Regions from separate parts of the Homo sapiens genome. Here region 2 is linked to region 1. Evidence: fine-mapped expression QTL. A gene starts in region 1. The other region holds a variant in brackets. All regions are shown on one strand. Distances are between the middles of the regions. Region 1 holds the start of TELO2 (telomere maintenance 2). Region 2 overlaps IFT140 (intraflagellar transport 140).

Region 1 (4,350 bases):
TCAGCACTGCCAGCCGGCCCTCGCGCAGGAATCTGGCCAGCAGCCGCGCCATCTTCATCAGCCGGAAGCTGGGGCTGAAGATACGGGCGTGTTGGGCAGAGCCGCCAACCCCCATCCTCGGGGCCCCCTTCCTGCCACAAGGAACCAGCAGCCCGGATTACACGGGCAGCCCCAACAACATAACCAGCGTGAAGTCCAAAACCACAAGCCGGATGGGAAAATCTGTTAATCCATTCCTAAATAACTGCGATTACTGTGTGAGAGCTCTCGGGGCCCTGAGCGGCTTCCCCAACCTGGAGTCTCACTGGACACCCCTCCCCTGCTGCTGACGCGGATAACTCAGTGCTTGCTTTGATCACAGCAACCTCTGAAAACCCAGCTTCTCAAGATGCAGTGTCCCGGCAAGGACTGCAGTGTGATCTGAGGCTGAGCCTGGGAGCCGGCTGGGGCTGGGAGTCCACATGGGACACGTGTCAGTGATGACAGCTGTGCTTCCCTGGAAAACCTGGAACGTCCCCAGCTGACGGGCTGCCTCTGCCGCCTGGGATGTGAACACTCCCACCCCATCCCTCTCTGACACAGCCGGACGGGGAGCAAGTGGGGGACTTTGTGAGACACAGCAGGTGCCTCCCGTCGCAAAGGAGACAGACACAGACCGCTTCTTCTGTTCAGGGGTTCAGCCAGGAGCAGGCTCTCTCTCTAGCCCCTCACAGGGACTAGAGAGGCTCTTGGTCCAGTCCTTCAAGCCACTCTCATCACTTCTGAGGCTACCGGCAACCCCAGGATGGGCCCAGCCCACTCACCCCGCAGCACCCTCGATGGTCTCCATCAACACCAGGAAGGCTTGGTCCGCCGGGCCCTCCAGGAAGAAGCTGGCCCACAGCTCCTCCAGGCGGCCATGGGGCAGCAGCTCCAGCCAGGCTGGGCTCAGCCTGCTGGCAAGACATCTGAGGACAGGCGAGAAGTGGGCCGAGGCAAACTCCTCCTTCTCCCTCGGGAGCGCTGGAGGCTCCATCTCACCGAGATACCGCTTCAGGGACTCCAGGGTGCAGAAGATGTGGCCGCCATCCTCCGAAGACGAGAGGGCATGAATGGCTTCCCGGACGGCGAGTCGAACCTCTGAGGGTGCTGGCTCCATCCTGCAGGACAGATCTGGGCGTCACGGGAAGACGACCTGTGACATGGACACAGGGCTCAGCTTGGGGCACGGAAATAATCCACACAAGCTCAGGAAGCCCCTCGGTGAGCGCCCCGAGACCCCACACCCCTCAACCCTGGTCCCACCCAACCCTGTCCCGCCTCCTTCCCCTCCAGTGCCTGCCGGTTTCCACCCAGAGTTCGCTCCTCCGCTCGGACCCCAACGCTACCAGCCACTGCAGGGCTTCTCAACCCGGGCCACTGTGCCCAGGGAACATTCTCAGTTGTCTCAACCGGGAGTGCCACTGGCGCGAGAGGGAGGTGGAGGCTAGAGATGCTGGTGAGTGTTCCCCGGGCACAGCGCGGCCCCACGCGTCCTCGCACCCAAGGCGGGAAACTCGGCCCGCGGGAGCTGCCGGCCCTCCCGGCTCCCTGAGCGGTGAGAGGTGGCTCCAGTCGCCATTCCTCCGCCCCTTAGAAACCAACAGCTTACGGGGAACACGGGTTCGGGGCTAGAGGAGCCGCACGCGGACCCGCCCCCGATCCAGGCCCGGACCCCGACCTGTACCCGGACCCCGACCGGACTCCTACCCGACCTGGACCCGACCCAACCAGACCTGGAGCCCAACCCGACCCAACCGGACCCCCGATCCCCGATCCCCGACCCCCAACCCGACCTGGACCCGGCTCCCGGGTGACTGCAGCGCGCTCAGGCGCCGCGCGCCACCGATTCGCTGCAGCCGATTCCCCACGGCCGCCGCGGCCCCGGACGAAACGCGATCGCGGCCCAGCCGGTTGGCCCCGAGCACGAGTTCCTGGGTCCGGGCGAGGCTCCCGCGGGTTTTCTTGAGCCTCTGGGGCGGGTCTCCGCGGGCCTCTCAGCGCGAATCTGCGGAGGACGCCAGGCGGGAGGGCGCATCTGCGCCTGCGCTGCGCGGGGACGGGGCGGAGCCTGGACGCGGGAGCGGGGGGCGGTGGGGTGGGCGGGGCCTGACGCGTGAGTGGGGCGGGGCCTGAGGGCAGGGCCGCGCTTCCCCACGTGGCTGCGAGCTGGGTTCGCTGCGCCCGGGTGGTGGGTTCTCGCCTTAGTTTCTCCCATCTCGGTCGTCCCTACCCTGGAGTGATGTCAGCCGTCTCTTCCCTCCGCCTCGGGTCCCACATTCTCTCCAGAACGCCGAGCGTTCGCTCTAAGGCAGATGTTTACCAAGACAGGCCTGGCTCGTCTTCCCCGGATGTAAGGCTCTGCTTTCAAGGGTCAGAGGCCAGTAAGGGAAACGCACGGTACACAAGGAAGTAAAAGAGCAGTTGAGATCATGTCAGATCTGAACAATTGCAGCTCCGTAAATGAGGCCGGGTCGTGGAATAAAAACTGCGACCAGTAGGGTAAGCGCTAGACGCATGTGGCTCTGTAAATTAACTGAAGTTAAATAAGTCCAGTTCCCTTGCAGCACTAGCCCCATCTCAAGGGCTCGGTACTACCTTTGGCTGTGGCCGCCAGGCTGGACAGCCGGACACTGAACATTTACAACATGCAGTGCCTTCTGTACACCGCAGCGGAGTGTGGGGGGCTTCATCTTTGTGGAGGGGGCAATCCAGGAAGACACCTAAAGAGGCGCCATTTCAGCAGTGATGGATGTGGGAAAAGCTGGGGAACAGTTATCCATTCAACAAACATTGATTAAATGCCTGCTTGGTGCACCAAGCCTTCTGAGCAACAAATGATGCAAAGTTCCTGCTCACCTATCGGGGGAACAGATAAAGTACATACGAAATATGCCAGGTGACAGGCCTCGAGCAGAAAAACTGGCAGAGGCCGGGCCCGGTGGCTCACGCCGGTAATTCCAGCACTGGGAAGCTGAGGTGGGAGAATCGTTTGCACCCAGAAGTTCAAGAATGGGAAAAATAGTGAGACCCTGTCTCTACAAAAAATTTAAAAATTAGCCAGGCACGGTGTCATGAGCCTGTGATCCCAGCTACTCAGGAGGCTGAGGTGGGAGGATGGCTTGAGCCCGGGAGGTTGAGGCTGCAGTGAGCCATGTTCACTGCCACTGCACTCCAGCCTGGACAACAGAGCAAGACCCTGTTTCAAAAAAAAAAAAGGAATCAAAATAAAAAACCGGTAGGGTAAGAAAATAAGAGCCAGTGGCCGGGCACAGTGGTTCACACCTCTAATCCCAGCACTTAGGGAGGCCGAGACGGGTGGGTCACAAGCTCAGGAGTTCGAGACCAGCCTGGCCAACATGGTGAAACCCCGTCTCTCCTAAAAAAAGAATAATAATAATAATAATAGTAATACAAAAATTAGTTGGGCGTGGTGGCATGTGTCTGTGATCCCAGCTACTTGGGAGGCTGAGGCAGGAGAATTGCTTGAACCCAGGAGGCAGAGGTTGCAATGAGTGGAGATTGTGCCATTGAACTCCAGCCTGGGTGACAGAGCGAGACTCCTCCAAAAAAAAAAAAAAAGAAAAGAGCCAGAGAGCAGTGGGTGCTGTCTTACGTAAGGTGAGAGCTCTGAACAGAACACCTTAGAGCAGAGCCCTGAATGTGTTGACAGCCAGGGAAGAGTCTCACTGGCAGGAAAACGGCAGGTGCAAAGGCCTGAGGCCGCAACTGTTGCCCGGGAGGTGGAGCCGAGGGAGGCATATGCAGGGGTGAGGCCTGGAGGGAGTGAGGCAGTGGGCCAGGCCACAGAAGGCCCTCGCAGGGACTAAGATTTTGCTTGTGTGGCAGGCATCTCCTGGAGCCATTGAAGGCACGGGTCCATGCTGGTGCAGTTAGGAGAGCAGACGGTAGGGGGGCGACACGGACGAGGGGACTAGGTGGCCATTGTGAGGATGAGCTTGGGGCGGAATGGGGGTGTAGAGAAGCAGCTGAACTCAGGGCATGTCTCTGCAGGCAGAGCTGATGGATGGGATATGGGGCAGGCAGCATCCCATCATCCCGGAAACTCCTCCTCCGTCCGCTGCTGGGTTCCAGCCCTCGCCAGTGCCCACGGCAGCTCCGTCCTTCCCTATTCCCTTCTTTTCCTGAAGCCCCGCATCCAACAGTGGGTGCTTGGAGGACAAATTTCTCAAGCCTTTGTGTGTCTGAAAATGTCTTTATTCTTTGCTCTGTCACCCAGGCTGGAGTGTAGTGGCGCGATTTCAGCTCACTGCAACCTCCTTCTCCCCGGCTCAGGCGATCCTCCCGCCTTAGCCTTCCAAGTAGCTGGGA
Region 2 (4,384 bases), 22 kb before region 1:
GGGTGAACAGTACCTTGCTGAGGTTTAAATTCACATTTTCTGGATGAGTAGTGATGTGCAGCTCCTTCTCATGTGCTTATTATCCATTTACACACCTTCTGTGAAGGCTTCAAGTCTCTTCTCATCATTTTATTGGGTTTTCTTATTATTGTACTTTTTTTTTTTTTTTTTGGAGACGGAGTCTCACTCTGTTGCCCAGGCTGGAGCGCAGTGGCGCGATCTCGGCTCACTGCAAGCTCCGCCTCCTGGGTTCACGCCATTCTCCTGCCTCAGCCTCCCAAGTAGCTGGGACTACAGGTGTGCATCAGCATGCCTGTAGAGATGGGGTTTCACCATTTGGCCAGGCTGGTCTTGAACTCGTGACCTCAAGTGATCCACCCGCCTCCACCTCCCAAAGTGCTGGGATTACAGGCGTGAGCCACCGCGCCTGGCCGAAGTTCCCTTCTATTCCTTTTTTCCTCTGCTTCTGAAATTCCAATGACTTGTATATACAGTACCATCCCCTAGCTCAACTGATGCTCTTCTTTTCTCCCCCAAGGACTTTTTCTGTTTTTCATTTTAGGGATTTGCCATTTCTGTTGCTTCAAGTTTACCAGCTTTCCTTCTGCAGTGTCTCACTCTGATGGTAATCCCATCCATCTTTTTCATGTCAGTTTTCTACCAGTCAACTTTTTCTACCAGTTTTTATTATTGTTACTTTAAACCTTTTTTCCTGCCTTCTTTTTAGTTGATTTTTTTTTTTTTTTTTTTTTGAGACAGAGTGTCGCTCTGTCGCCCAGGCTGGAGTGCGGTGGTGCAATCTCGGCTCACTGCAAGCTCTGCCTCCCGGGTTCACGCCATTCTCCTACCTCAGCCTCCCGAGTAGCTGGGACTACAGGCGCCCGCCACCACGCCCAGATAATTTTTTTGTATTTTTAGTAGAGACAGGGTTTCACCGTGTTAGCCAGGATGGTCTCGATCTCCTGACCTCATGATCCGCCCGCCTCGGCCTCCCAAAGTGCTGGGATTACAGGCGTGAGCCACCGCACCTGGCCTTAGTGGACTATTTTTTATAATTTCATTTTAGCTATCAGCTTTTTATCTCTACTCCTCTTTGCATTGTATTTCTAGTGTTTGCCCTGGAGATTACCATAAACATACTTACCACACTAGAGTTAGCAGGTAGGTCCATTTCCCACCCGTGTCCCCACCTGTATTTGTCGTATGTGTAACATGTACATGTATTATAAACACAGTATAGTGTTATAATTGTTGCTTTCAACAGTCATATGTATTTTGAAGAAATTAAAAGGAAAGAAATAGTCTTTTACATTTACCTACATATTTACCATCCATTTCTGGTGTTTTTTTTTTTTTTTTTTTTTTTTTTTTTTTTTTTTTTTGAGACAGAGTTTTGCTCTTTGTAGCCCAGGCTGGAGTGGGCAACAAACCTCAGCTCACCACAACCTCTACCCTCCAGGTTCAAGTGATTCTCCTGCCTCAGCCTCCGGAGTAGCTGGGATTACAGGCATGCGCCACCACGCCTGGCTAATTTTGTATTTTTAGGGGAGATGGGGTTTCTCCATGTTGGTCAGGCTGGTCTCAAACTCCCAACCTCAGGTGATCTGCCTGCCTCGGCCTCCCAAAGCGTCATTTCTGGTGTTCTTACTTCTTCCCTATGATTCCGATTTGCATGTGGTATCACTCCTCTTCAGCCTGAGCTCCCTTTAACATTTCTTCTAGTTCAGATCTCCTGATGATGAATTTTCTTACTTTTCGTTAATCTGAAATGTATTTATTTTGCCTGTATTCTTCAAGGTTGTTCTCATCAGATAGAGAATTCTGAGGCCAGGCACAGTGGCTCATGCCTGTAATCTCAGCACTTTGGGAGGCCAAGGTGGGAGGATTTCTTGAGGCCAGGAGTTCAAGTCCAGCCTGGGTAACAAGTGAGACCCCATCTCTGAAAAAAATAGCAAGGCATGGTGGCATGCACCTGCAGTCTT[G/A]GCTGCTTGGGAGGCTGAGGTGGGAGGACTGCTTGAGCCCAGGAGGTTGAGTCTGCAGTGAGCTGTGATAGCACCACTGCACTCCAGCCTGGGTGACAAAGCAAGATCCTGATTCAAAAAAAATCCTGATTTGACAGATTTTTTTCCTTTCAGCACTTGAATGTTTTCCCTGTCTGGGCCTCCATTGTTTCTGGAAGAGTCAGCTATGGGCTGTCTGTGGGGCCCTTACATGTCATGTGTCTCTCCATCTCCCACTGCACTGGCTGCTGTCATGACTTTCTTCTTGAATTTGTGTTTCAGCAGTGCGATAATGATGTTCCTAGGTGTTTTCATTGTATTTATCCTGGGCTTTTGGGATCTATATTTGTGTTTTGCCAAATTTGGGAAATTTGCTCTTTTTCTCCTTCTGGGACTCCAATTAAATGTTAGGTCTTCCATATCTAGTAGACACACATTTGTGATTACTGCTCATTATTTTCTTTTTTTCTGTCCTTTGGATTAATTTGTATTTATCTAGACTTTCTTTAGCTATCTTCAATCTGCTGTTAACCTCTCCAGCAATCTTTTTAGAGCTTGTATTTTGCAGCCCTAGAATTTACACTTAGTTCTTTTTATTATTTATTGGCTAAAATTCCCTATTTGTTAATTTGTTTAAAATATATTTTATATTTATATCCTAAAGCAGAGTTGTAACTGCTGCTGTAAAATCTTAGCTACCGGTTCCAATATCTGGGTCATGTAGGATTGATCTCCATTACTTGCCTTTTGAGTATGGGTCAAATTTTCCTGTTTCTTATGTCTAGTCATTTTTTTGTATCATGGACATTGTGGATAATCCATTGTAGAGACTCTGGATTCTGTTACATTCCTCCAAAGAGTATTGCTTTTTTTTGGTTCATTTTATTAGGCAATCACCTTTGCTCAGCTCAGAGCCGAAACTCTTTCCCCTGTGGTGGATAGCAGCTGAAATCCCTGCTTGTAGCGTGAGTTGGCTTAAAGTCTGCACCTCCCCTGCCTCATGTGTAGTGTGGGAGCAACTAGTGACGAGGGCAGCATATGCTCAGGATTTGGGATCCCCTCTATGCCTGCTGCATCCCAACGTTTCCACCTTCACATTCCAGCTGCTGTGGTCAACAAAAATCTTTTATTTATTTATTTATTTATTTATTTGAGATGGAGTGTCGCTCTATCGCCCAGGCTGGAGTGCAGTGGCGTGATCTCGGCTCACTGCAAGCTCCGCCTCCCTGGTTCATGCCATTCTCCTGCTGCAGCCTCCCGAGTAGCTGGGACTACAGGCGCCCGCCACCACGCCCAGTTAATTTTTTTTGCATTTTTAGTAGAGACGGGGTTTCACCGTGTTAGCCAGGATGGTCTCGATCTCCTGACCTCGTGATCCACCCACCTTGGCCTCCCAAAGTGCTGGGATTACAGGCGTGAGGTACCGCACCTGGCCAACAAAAATCTTGATTCTGATTCTTTAAGCCTGGAAGAGGGCAGGCTTCGAGGTGGCTGATGCCCACACTGGCCCTGACTTGGGCCTACCCTGAGGCAGAAAGTTGTGAGAAGCAGCCGGGTGCAGTGGCTCACGCCTGTAATCCCAGCACTTTGGGAGGCCAAGGCGGGCAGATCATGAGGTCAGGAGATGGAGACCATCTTGGCTAACACGGTGAAACCCCGTCTCTACTAAAAATACAAAAAATTAGCCGGGTGTGGTGGTGGGCGCCTGTAGTCCCAGCTACTTGGGAGGCTGAGGCAGGAGAATGGTGTGAACCCGGGAGGCGGAGCTTGCAGTGAGCAGAGATCGCACCACTGCACTCCAGCCTGGGCGACACAGCAAGACTCCGTCTCAAAAAAGAAAAAAAAAAAAAGAAAGTTGTGAGAAGCAGGAAGCCTGCCCAGTGCCACCCACTCCCAGCATCAGCCTGCTCACGGCTGCCCCCAGTGCCTTTCCATGTGTCCGTCGTCATTAGGGGGAGGGCTGCTCTCACAGGAGTCGTGCTGCTGTTGTCAGAAGCCTCTCTTCTCATTCTTTTTTCTTTTCTGAGACAGTCTTGCTCTGTTGCCCAGCTGGAGTGCAGTGGCATGATCGTGGCTCACTGCAACCTCCGCCTCCTGGGCTCAAGCAATTGTCCTGCCTCAGCCTCCCAAGTAGCTGGGACTACAGGTTCCCGCCACCACGCCCAGCTAATTTTTGTATTTATTTATTTATTTTTTAGTAGAGACGGGGTTTCACCGTGTTAGCCAGGATGGTCTTGATCTCCTGACCTCGTGATCCGCCCACCTCGGCCTCCCAAAGTGCTGGGATTACAGGCGTGAGCCACCGCGCCCGGCCTCTTTTTCAACCATAATTCTGTTGTAGCCAACATAGAGAATTGCACGCGCCTGCATCCGTCAGACCCTGC

Evidence for each region. PIP is the estimated chance that this variant, and not a neighbour inherited with it, causes the effect.
Region 2: its variant is the best candidate, but not a certain one, in a credible set for the expression of TELO2 in sun-exposed skin (GTEx, PIP 0.61).

What each region holds. Positions count from the first base shown.
Region 1 is chr16:1,491,070-1,495,419 of GRCh38, reverse strand. It overlaps TELO2 (telomere maintenance 2), which reads right to left and starts at 2,060. Exons shown (of 21, transcript NM_016111.4): 1 at 1,815-2,060; 2 at 804-1,174; 3 at 1-74. The coding sequence starts at 1,138. RefSeq lists enhancers at 1-453, 1,355-2,255, 2,353-2,402 and silencers at 1,623-1,822, 1,833-1,882, 2,053-2,142.
Region 2 is chr16:1,513,138-1,517,521 of GRCh38, reverse strand. The region is part of intron 30 of IFT140 (intraflagellar transport 140); the gene reads left to right. Among named protein-coding and RNA genes, the nearest start is that of TMEM204, 18 kb to the left of the region's middle. The variant G/A (reference allele first, on the strand shown) is at 1,983.